2 separate regions of the Homo sapiens genome follow, and region 2 is linked to region 1. The links come from fine-mapping of genetic effects on gene expression. A gene starts in region 1. The other region holds a variant in brackets. All regions are shown on one strand. Distances are between the middles of the regions.

Region 1 (5,360 bases):
GGGTTTCTTCTCTGTACTTCTCCCACCTCTGCAGCCTCTACACTTGAACCAAGACCCCAGAGACCATGGCCTGGCTTTCACTAACATCCCTCTGGCCAGAGCTGATCCCAGAGAAATATAGTGGGAAGTTGCAGGACCAAGGAGGAGATGAGGGAAACTGACAGTCACTGGCTCCCCCTGCACCCATACTTTGGGGGAAAAGTGGAGACTGGGGGCTAAAGGTGTTTCTGTCTTTATTATACTGGGGGTTGGAGTGAAGGCACTGGAACCTGTTTTTCATTTTTCTCCTTTGGGATTAGGAGTGGAGTGGAGAGGGGCCTGACCTTGGCCTTGAACAGAAACAGCCCCACACCCCTATCAATATTGAGCATTGCTAGGTGCCAGACACTCTATACAAACAACCTAACTTCATTCTCCCAACAGCTATATGAGGCAGTGATCACTGACCCATTTTATAGAGGGTCAACTGAGGCTCAGAAAGATTAAGTAGCTTGCCCATGTCACACAGCTTTTGAACGTAGGTCGTCTGACCGAAAGCTGAATTCCTAACTACTTACTCAGCTTCATTACTTGGGGGTGGGAAGGGAGGGAGGGATGGGGGCAGATACCAGATGGAACCTCACTTTGTGTTACAGAAATGCAGACCACGCACGCACACCCCAGACTAGACATGTCCTTTTGAAGAGTGATACAGAAAGGGGGCAGAAGAGAGAGCGGAAGGAGGAGAGAGGGAAGAAGAGGGGAAGATCTCTTCTCTCAATCTTGGTCCAGAGAAGACCCTCCCTAACCTCCCCACTACCATCACCAGGACATATCCTGCGCAGAGTCCACACTGCCCCTCACCCCAGTAGCAGTGCAGAGGATACTCCCCAGGTGCTTGCTCTGTCCCAGGGTCAGGTGGATTCCCCCACAACCGACTCCATGCGCAAGCCAGGCAGAGCCCACCTTTGCCCCCAGCCCTCACCTCATGGGAAATGCCATGGGGTAGAGGCTCTCTGGCAACACCTGACCAAGCACAAACAAGCCCAACCAGGCGTCCTGGAGCCCGCGGCCAATCCTGCTGGTCTGTACGTGAAGGCTCAAAGGACTCTTGACTTGCTGCTGGGGTGAGCCCTCCACCCCACCCCAACCCATCCCACCCCCAGAACATATGGCCTGACAACCAGGAGTGTTTGGGCATGGCTAGCACGAGGAGGCACCTGGCCTGGCCCACCAATCTCCTCTCCCCAGGGATTTCCCAGCGTCAGTCCTGCAGCCACCGCTGATGCTCTGGCTGCGGAAACCCGGGGTTGCCCGCGGGAGAAGGGGTGGCGGGTCCCAGGCTTCGGGCAGGGGGCGCCAGAGGACGCCCAGGAGCCCGGCCGGCAGCTGGCGAGGCGGGCAGGCAGGCGGCATCTCTCGGCCCGGGCGCCCCTCCCCCCGGCGGGCAACAGACCCGTCGCCTGCTCTGCACGGGCCGCGGCGCGGAGGACTTCCCCCGGCTGTGCCCTCGGACCAAGCTGACTGCGGGAGTGGCCGCCAACTTCACAGCCTACAACCCCCTCCGGATCATGCCGGCCCTGGGGCTGCGGGAGGGTGCGTCTGGTGCCCAGCTCTATGACCAGGGGTGGGAGGATAGGGATGGGGGATGGACAGATAGACTCCGGCCAAAGATGGACACGGGAGTCAGGGATGCGGGTCCAGTCGGGATCTCAGCTGGAGGGGAGGGGGCGCGGAGCAGACACGGGGGACACGGCCCCAATTCCAAGCTGAGGGGAGGGGACTTGCAGCAAGATTGGCGAGGGAAGGCGGGACTCCGGTCAGATAGATATGGGGGAGGGGGCGCTAGGGGCAGAAATAGAGAAGAAGCATGGTCGGGGTACAGGCGCGGGGGAGGGTAGAAACTATGGGCAGACATGGATGGGGACAGGAAAGACTCCGGGCAGTGATGAAGTGGAGGAGAGGAGCAGGGTCCGGCATTCAGACCGTGACGGGAAATAGAGGGGGAGACACAGTTGAGCTGCAGGTTAATGGGGGGGCTCTAATAAAGGTGGGGGGCACACTGCCCGGATCCAGGCCGAGATAGGGAAAGACTCGAGACAGCAAGCACGGTCTGTGTCAGAATTCTGGAGGGGGAGACTTTAGCATAGATGGGTAAGAGGGTCGGTCCAGGCTGGGGGAGGGGGGGGGCCGAGATTAGAGATTCACCAGCGATTAAGGGGGCCTCGGCCCTAGGTTTGGGAGTTCCCCAGAAGATGGGGGTGGGCGAACGCTGAACGAACTCAGTTCGGGCTGGGGGAGAATTCAGCAGAGACGGGTTAGGAGAGCGCCCCGAGTCCGGGCCGGTGCGGAAACTCGGGACCGCGCCGGCAGGGCTCGGTGCGAGGCCAGGTCGGGGTCTGGGGCCGAGCACTCACCTGGGCGCCGTCAGCAGCAGGAGCGGGGGCCGGCGCTGGCGGGGGCGGCCACGGGGCGCAAGTTTGCCATCCCTAAGTCGGGGACCGGGCCGGGCGCAGGGTAGGTAGCTGCAGCCGCGCGGAGGGCCGAGGCTCCCGCTCTCCCGGGCGGCGGGTGCAGAAAAGGCGCCGCGGAGCAGCGCGGGGCGGGCGGGCGGGCGGCGCCGGGCCGGGCGCGGGCTCCTGCCGCCGCCGCCGCCGCCGCCTCCTTGCCGCGCCGCCCCCCGCTCCCCCGCTCCCCCGCCCCGAGCACCGCCCGCGCCGCGCGCCGCCTCCTATTTGCGGGCGGCGGCCGCAGCCCCGGGCTCTGAGAGCCGGTGCCGCATCCTCTTCGGTCTCTGAGCGCCGCCGCCGCTGCCGCCGAACCCGGTTCCTCCGGCCGCTCCGGCCGCTGCCCGCAGCGCGCGCCGGGCCGAGTGACGGCCGAGGCGGGACGCGGCGCCTGCGCGGGCCGGGCCCGGGAGGGGGCGCGCGCCGGGCCGGGCGCGAGGAGCCGCGGGAGAAGGGGCGGGGGCGACGCGCGCCGCCTCCTGTTAAAGGGGGAACAGCGCCAGCCGAGCCGATCGTGCCCCCCACCTCCCCGCCTTGGGCCCCAGGCGCCGGCGCGGGAGAAGCCCTGGGTAAGCCCCCGCCCAGCCCGCTGCTTCTTGGACCGCAGAATGAGGCGATCCGCGACGCCCCTCCAGCTATACCCATGCCGGAGGCTTGTCGCGCCGCCAGGGTGTCCCGGGCCCTGCAGGCTGAAGCATTTGCTCACCTTCCCATGTGCATTGCATATTGCATGTCCCTGTGCATGCAGGTGCCAGTCATGTGCGCTGAACTTTGCATATGCATACAGGTGCCCTAAGTGTGCACTGCCATGTTGCCTGGGTAGGTGCATGCAAGTGCCACACACATGCACGGTGTATTAACATGTGCCCAAGTCCTGAATGCATGTTGCTTGTTCCTGTGCGCAGGGATGTTATATGTATGCAAGCTTACAGGTGCCACATGTGTGCTGAGGACTGTGGGTAACTCATGTAGCAGCCACATATGTATACTGCAATGTGACATGTTTGATGCATACTGTAAACTGCAATGTTGCACGTCCTTAGGCACGGGGATGCTACACGTGTGCAGTGTGTTACATGTTTTCCTGAGTCCCTGTCTATTCCCACAAGTGCCTTTCCCTGTGCCAGGGGCGCCCCCATGTTGCATCTGTTTGTGTAGAAGCAGCAGAGATGTACAGACCCACCCCTTCCCCATCTTGGCACTAAGCCCAGAAACAGTTGGGTGGGGCCTGAGCCCTCATGGTTCAGGCGGTACACAGGGAGATGCCCATGGTTCAGGGCTCTGGTCAGGCAGTTTGTGGCCTGGGCATGTTGCCATCAGTAAGGTAGGCCGACCAGGGACGCACCATTGCAGCCAACACAAGTAGGTTAATCCCATGGCTTTGGTCAGAGGAGAAACCAGCAGGGGGCAGCTTTGCAATAAGGGTGGGATGGTTTCAGCTTTGCGATGAGGGTGGGATGGTTTCAGGACCATACTTTTTGAAGGTTCACTAGCCAGGAAGGGCCAAATTTTCAGTGCAAAGAAGTCCTCATTTCAGCAAATACCAACCCCACCTCTCCACTGATGCCCCTTAAGTTGTGGCACCCTCAAGATGGGGCAAGAAGAGAAAAGCCTACCTCTTCCCAGGGGCAGTACCAGGAAGAGGCATAGAACCGCCCTCTTTTCCCTCCTTCTGTCCCTCCCACCTCCAGCAGCCTCGGTGACATTTGTTGTGAGTGATTGTGAGAGATTATCAACTTTAATGGAAGGAGGTAATAAGGGACGATGAAGGAATCTCACCTGTCACCTTAAGAGAATTTATGAGGCCTTATGAGGCAGGGAGGAGGGCTGGGCCGGCACCTTCCCTTTCGCTGCGGATGCCCAAGGAGGCCTGTGCCTTGGGCCTAGCACTGGCAAGCAAGGCTCCTAGGGTTTGCTAGGCACCCTCAAACACAGTCAGACATCTCTGGATTTCAAGGCTCAGCTACTATGTGAAAGCCAGGCCAGGCAGGCCTTGCCAGCTGCAAAGTATGTTGAAAGCCACCCCAGGGCAGTGGGAAATCCGGGCCCCCTCCTTACATGGGCACTGGGAGGGGGAATGGGGTTGCTAGACTGGGGCTTCAAGGAGGTAGGCAAAAGTGGGGAAAATGGTGGAGACATGGGTTGCCCACAAGGATGCAAGCCCCTTAGAAATCTCCAGGACCCTGTCCAAAGCTCCAGCCCCCTCCTCTCCTACAGGGAGCTTGCTTCCCTCTTTTTGAATATTCATGATCATTAGCATATTAGATCAGAGAAACCTAGGCAGGTCTCTTGCAGATGTGATGCAGCTGGATGCCTGAGGCCCCCCCTCCTCCTTCCCCAGGAGGCAGCTGGGTGAGAGGTGATGGGAGGGACTGGCCCCAGATCGACAGCAGCGTTTTTGTCTGTCTCTCTGTTCCTCGCTAGCCCTCTGACTTCTTGATCCCTTCTATCAGCCACAAAAATGTACGCCCAAGGAAGCATAGGTAGACAGAGTGAGGGACTGACAGAGATGGTGTCCCTTAGCCGGGGGCTCAGTAGGGGCAAGGTGGGGAGGTCAGCAAGGCAAAGGGGGTTGTGGGAGCTGTGTGGGGAGAGCAGGACCTCCCCAGGGTTGTACAGGAGTGAGCAGGCGAGACTAGGGCTGACCTCTGGAAGGCTCTCCCTGGAGGCACCTCTCTGCATCAGGGTTTCCCCACCTCCTTTCCCAGGAGCCCCTGCCCTTCCAGACTCACTCTGGTAATAATGCCGCCCAGGAGGACTTGGAGTAATTACAAATCGTTTCCATATTCAAATCCAGCTGGTTGAAGATAAATTACTTCTCTGATGCTCAGGCGGGGGTGAAAAGAGCAAGCCTTAGCCCCAGGAGGGGCCTCC
Region 2 (5,360 bases), 91 kb before region 1:
AGGCAACGCCGAAGGTGGTGAGAAGCAGGAGGCAGAGCGAGAAGGCAGGAATGGAGGGGCCCCCTAGAGGCACCAGCTTAAGAGGAAGGTTCACGAGCTCAGGAGGACTTGGGGGAGTGCTGCAAGATGGTGCGAGAAATGGAGAAGGAAGACAGAACGGGGTAAGAGAGAGAAGAGGAGAGAAAGAACGCAGGAGAGGAGGGAGAGGAGAAAACGGAAAGGAGTCAGAGACTGGGAGGATGTCCAAGCTGCCGGGACCTCAGAGAACCCGTGTCGTTAGCTACCGTGCCTGAAGGGGGACAACAAACACGGAGGACGGAGGTGAAGGCACGACAGGAGGGAGACAAGCAAAAGCCACAGAGACCTGGCTGACGGGGGGGAGGGGAGGTCGAGCAGCGCTAGGTTCTTACAGGCAATCCGGGGGAGCCAACAGCACCAGGAAAACCTGGGGGGCCCTGGTGGGAGAAACAGGCAGGTCACATCTCACAGGCACAGTAACCCTGGGACAGCCTGGAGGGCACAGTCTGGGGCTTGGGGGTCATGGGGAGAGGAGGTCATGGGAGTATTTTCAAGGCAGCTGGAAAAGAGACTCCTTGAAAGTCTTGGCTCAAAAGACAACTGTTCCTCCCCTTGGCTCCAGGAAGAATGGCTCCTCCGTTGACGGAGATGCGGAATGGCTCCAGAGTCAGAGGGCTTCCTGAGTCTTCCGGAGTCTAACTGAAGATCCGGTTGCAGCAGAAGCCCATTTCTTTCAGCCTTGCCCACCATGCCTGCCACCCGACCTCCACCTGTCCCCCGAGTGGGGGGCTCCCTGGCTCTAAGACAGCTCCCACCAGCCATTTTCTTCTCCAGAGAAAGCATTTTCAGTTCTTTCAATCTTTCCTAGTCACTTCTATTTTCCTGCCATGTCAACATCACAGAGGACTCCAGAGTAGATACCCTGGTCTGGTTTTTGTAGATTTACCCTAGAGATGGCCCTACAGAGCAATGGAGGACAGCTCCATCTTAGCCCCGAGCCCTTGTGGGGACTGGAGTCACAGGGGCATGGAGAGGTCTGGCCAGCATGCCGCATGCTTCCCTGGTTGGGAGGCTGTGAGCCTGAAGCCTAGGCCCCCTGCCGAGGGCGGCCTGGGGCCACTGTGGAAAGCGCAGCAGAGGGTGGGGACAGGGAAGCAAAGAGGTGCCTCTGAGGACCTCCCCTAAGCAGGACCGCAGGCAGTAGGCAGAGCAGGGCGGTTCCAGGGCATCCGGTGGTGGGAGAGCACAGTCCCTGCAGATGCTCTGCGGAGGGATGGGGAGGGCAGTGGAAGTTCCCTCCTCCTGCCTTGCCCAGCCTTTTGGGGACAAGGCCGCGGGATGGTGTCTGAGTGTAATGACCCCTTTGAGAGCTTCTCAAGCAGACCAGGGCACCACTGATACTTACGATAGGGCCTGGAGGACCCGGGGAGCCCCTCATGCCAGGCGGACCCTGCAAAGGAAGCCAAGGGAAATGGATGAAGAGGCCCAGGCCCCATAGAGCCCCTGGGATTCCAGCAGCCTTCCTCCCAGCTTGCCAGGGCCAAGGTCAACAGAGGGTGGCTGCTGTCCAAGCAGGACCACTTAGCTGATGTTCGAACAATCTTTCATTTGGCCCATTCGGTCATCCTACAAACATTTAACAAGCAACTATTACGTACCAGGCATTAGTCCAGGGGCTAGGATCACAGCATAAACAAAATAAATAAAAACCCCTGCCTCAAAGCAGTTACATTCTAGGGGAGAGACGGACACTAACAAATAGAACAGGAGCTGGCACATAGTTGGTGTTGAGCTGACACCTGTAGAATGTTCCTGAATGAAGTAAATAGGCAGGATGTTGGATGGTGATGAGTATGATGCAGGCCAAGGGGACTGGAGGCTCTGGGGTTGGTGTGGAGTTCAATTTTAAAGAGGGTGGTCAGGGGAGGTCTCTCTGAGAAGGAGACATTTGAGCCGAGCTGAAGGAGTGCAGGAATAAGCCCTGGAGAAGAGCGTTGCAGGCAGAGGATGCAGCTGGGCACTGGGGAGAAAGAGTGTGTCCTACGCTGGGTCCTGTGTATCCCAGAGAAGCCACGTGCCAGGAGAGCAGATGAGCCCAGAGTGGTAAAGGGCATCAGTCAGGTGAGGCCTCGGAGGCCCCCAAGAGGTCTCAAAGGCAGACAGGGCCCCAGCTCCCTTGAGGATGAATCCCCATCCCTGGTCTTACCTCTTCTCCTCTCTGGCCTGGCAATCCCGGAGGACCAGGTAGGCCTGGGCTCCCAACACAGCCAGGATCTCCCTCACTGTTGTCACCCTGGAGAAGGATGGAGACGGTGATAGTGAGCAGTCAGGGCCTGTCCCTGTGGGGCATGGGGCATGATCGGGGGAGATAAGGCGAGGCACTCACCCGGGCCTCCTCGGCTCTTGGGCGCTCCAGTGACAAAAAGCACTGCAAGGGACAATGAGAGGCACATTGTCTGATGAGGCAGCCAGGGAACCCTCCTGCATAGGGCAGCCCCAAGCCCAGTCCCTTACCTGGGCGCAGTTGTCGAGGCCTGGCACACCAGGGATGCCCTGGTCTCCCTTCTCTCCCTTCTCCACGAGGTACCCTGGGTGGGCCCTCTGCCCCTGGACACAGTCCCCGCAGATACTCTGATCAGGGAGTGGGGAGAGGAGTGGGGCCTGGGTTAGAGATGGGCAGGATGGGCCAACTGGGGAGCCCCAGTGAGAACCCAGAGCCAGGGCTCCCTGCCCTGCCGTCTTCCCTCCTCCCACACTCCCTCCCTCCCCAGCCGCATCCCTGCGGCAGCTTTGCTCCATCCTCGGGGGACCCACTCCCAACAATTGGCTTTGAGTTTCCTCCAGGAAGAAGCTCTGGTACAGCTAAGCCAAAGCCACTTTCC[A/G]GACAGGCATGTGGGTGGAGGCGAGGGGCCCGCAGAGGGACCATCTGTCCCGGCTGTTCCTGCAACCTGCACCCACTGCGAGGACAAGCCACGAGGAGTGAGGCTGGAAAGGCTGGCTCCGAACGCCAGCTTCTCTGCCCAAGGGAGCAAAGGAACAGCTGCGGGAGGAGCCAGGCCCTTCCCAGGAGCCCCTGGGACAGATCTCAGATTGCTCACAGGCTCCTGGCTCGGATCGCGCCACCAGAATTGTCTTCCCCACAGGAAGGGCTTTAACCTTCTTTGGGTCACAGACCCCTCTGAGAGTTTGATGGAAGCTATGGGTCCTTTTCTCAGAAAAATCAAACCCACTAGTGAAAACCAGCCTGCAATTTCTGAGGACTCAGGAGCCCGGAGCCTGTTTGTGGCCAGTGTCGTGTCCACAGATGCCCAGGCAGGAGCCCCTGCTCACTTTCACTGCTCACCACCAAGCCCAGTAATAACGACTGGCATTTACTCAGCACCCATGACGCTGGGCATTGTACATAATAAGCCCTGCACATTATCACATGCCATCTTGACGGCGCAGTGAGACAGGGAATCTTATAAGCATTGTGGAGATGGGAAAGCCCACTCAAGAGAGGCGGCGTGACTTGTCTAAGGAAAGTGGGAGCCTGGATTGGCGTGGGCCTGTCCTAGGCCACAGCCAGTGCTCTCTCCCCAGGCTTCCTGGACTATGGGTGCAGGTGGTGGCTGGGGCTCTGGGTCAGCATGCCCCGGGGTGCCATCTGACCCCTTCTCCACACTATGCGCACTTTCTATTTGGAATCCTCTGAAGAGCACTTGATGAAGAAGCCAACAGATGAAATGTTACAGGAGAAATGTCAAATCCTGGATTTGGAGTCACACGATCACTGCCCAGTCATTGACAGAAGCAGAGGGGAGAAGAGCTGGGGGTTTCGTTGCCACAACCTCACTGTGATCCAACATGTAACTGATGCCAAGAGGTTACCCCGACCTCCTCTGGCTGCTTCTGGAGAAATCTGCCGTTCAGAGCAGGGAAGGGGTAGACAGCCCCCATGCTCTGCCCTGACCAAGGCCCATCGGGGTCATGGGATGTCCAGGGCACTAATTAGCCAGTGTCAGAAGAGGGTGGCCAGGATGAGGGGGGGCTCTGGAGGCCAACACATGGGAAAGACCCCTGAGGATGCTGGGCTAGAGGAGAGAAAGTCCAGGAACATAAGGGCCTCCTTCAAAAACCTGAAGGCAACCTGGGGAATTACTGTGCTCTCGTTTCTAGAGGTGACTAAGCAAAGATGGGCTATGTGACTCTTGATTCCAATAGGAACTTCTGCTCAGTTTGGGAAGCCGGCCCAGGCCACAGCCCTCTGGTAGAGCATTAAGGCTGTGTACAGGCCCTGGCACAGGCCGACCCTCTGACCAGGTCCGAAGTCCCCTTTCTTAGACTACCAGAAGTGCTTCTCAAATCCATCTCCTCCCTGGATTCTTTCTGGATTGACTAGAGAACAGCTGAAGCTTTCTTCCAGGCCACACCCAATCTCACAGCCCCCCACCACTGCACTTTCACCCCCTCTGCTTTGCTTTGGAAGCTGCTGGGCTCTGCCGCAGGGTGACCCGGGTGCTACGGGGTCTCATTGCCAGCTGCTGCGGGCAGGCTTCAGGGCTGGGTTCTGCCGACAGCATCTGCCATGTGGGCACCTTCACAGGATTCCTTTAAGCACTCATTCAGCAAATGTTGCCTGGGGGCCTGTTACAAGCCAGGCATCAGCTAGGCCCTCTTAGACAGATGCTTGGAATGCGTATTCCCTGCAAACTGCTGCTCTCTCTGCGAGGTGCCACACAGCTGAGCACTTACTAAGAGAATCCCCTTAGGAGACACCCCCGCCAGCTCACACTTCCCTCCTGGGTACCCTCTTACCTTAAGGAGGTGCTGTTCAATTGGTAAGGATCCCTGCAAGAGACAGATGTGTGGGCTCAAGCAGGTGAGGGGAAGGAACATGGAGACTTATGGGATCAGGGAGAGCCTTGGGACACGTCATGCACCTTCCAGCCTCAGAAGTGGGAGAGAAGAGGGACCCCCACTGCAGCTACCGGGCCAGCTTCATAGCCTGAGCAGCCCTGGGAAGGGCAGGGAAGGGGCATGCACAGGGAGTCCTGGCCAGTACCCACCAGTTCTGCAGTGAGCCCAGGCTGTCCTGGCAAACCGTTGTTTCCAGGCACTCCCTGTAGCCAAGAAGAGACACGAGTGAGTGGGCTCCATCTCTCTAGCCTGCTGGTCAGCCTGTTTCCTTCTCATCATCCCCGCCTCCTCTTCCCCTTGTCCTGCAGAGCTGAGAGCCCTGGCTGGCACAAGGCTGACATCTATTCTTAGCTCAAAAGCCTCTCGACCCTTATAGGGAAAGCCAGGGAGGCCCAGAAGAGCGACCCCCCAAACCGTCCAACAGCAAGTGTTTTCCCCCCACA

Alleles and levels. Positions count from the first base shown, and alleles are read on the strand shown. Sizes are in standard deviations (SD) of each study's normalised expression.
As copies of G replace A in region 2, the expression in cerebellar hemisphere of the gene that starts at base 2,853 in region 1 goes up (large effect, 2.7 SD a copy in GTEx).

What was found.
Region 2: its variant is fine-mapped to the expression of ADGRB2 in cerebellar hemisphere (GTEx, PIP above 0.99). The same link has a PIP of 0.9 or more in cerebellum.

Annotation. Positions count from the first base shown.
Region 1 is chr1:31,761,488-31,766,847 of GRCh38, forward strand. It overlaps ADGRB2 (adhesion G protein-coupled receptor B2), which reads right to left and starts at 2,853. Exons shown (of 33, transcript NM_001364857.2): 1 at 2,397-2,853. RefSeq lists an enhancer at 471-1,324 and a silencer at 1,266-1,535.
Region 2 is chr1:31,670,192-31,675,551 of GRCh38, forward strand. It overlaps COL16A1 (collagen type XVI alpha 1 chain), which reads right to left. Exons shown (of 71, transcript NM_001856.4): 43 at 5,067-5,120; 44 at 4,816-4,848; 45 at 2,533-2,649; 46 at 2,405-2,446; 47 at 2,225-2,311; 48 at 1,424-1,468; 49 at 411-455. LOC101929444 (a long non-coding RNA gene) reads left to right here. Exons shown (of 2, transcript XR_001737631.2): 1 at 1-161; 2 at 641-876. Among named protein-coding and RNA genes, the nearest start is that of PEF1, 28 kb to the left of the region's middle. The variant A/G (reference allele first, on the strand shown) is at 2,901.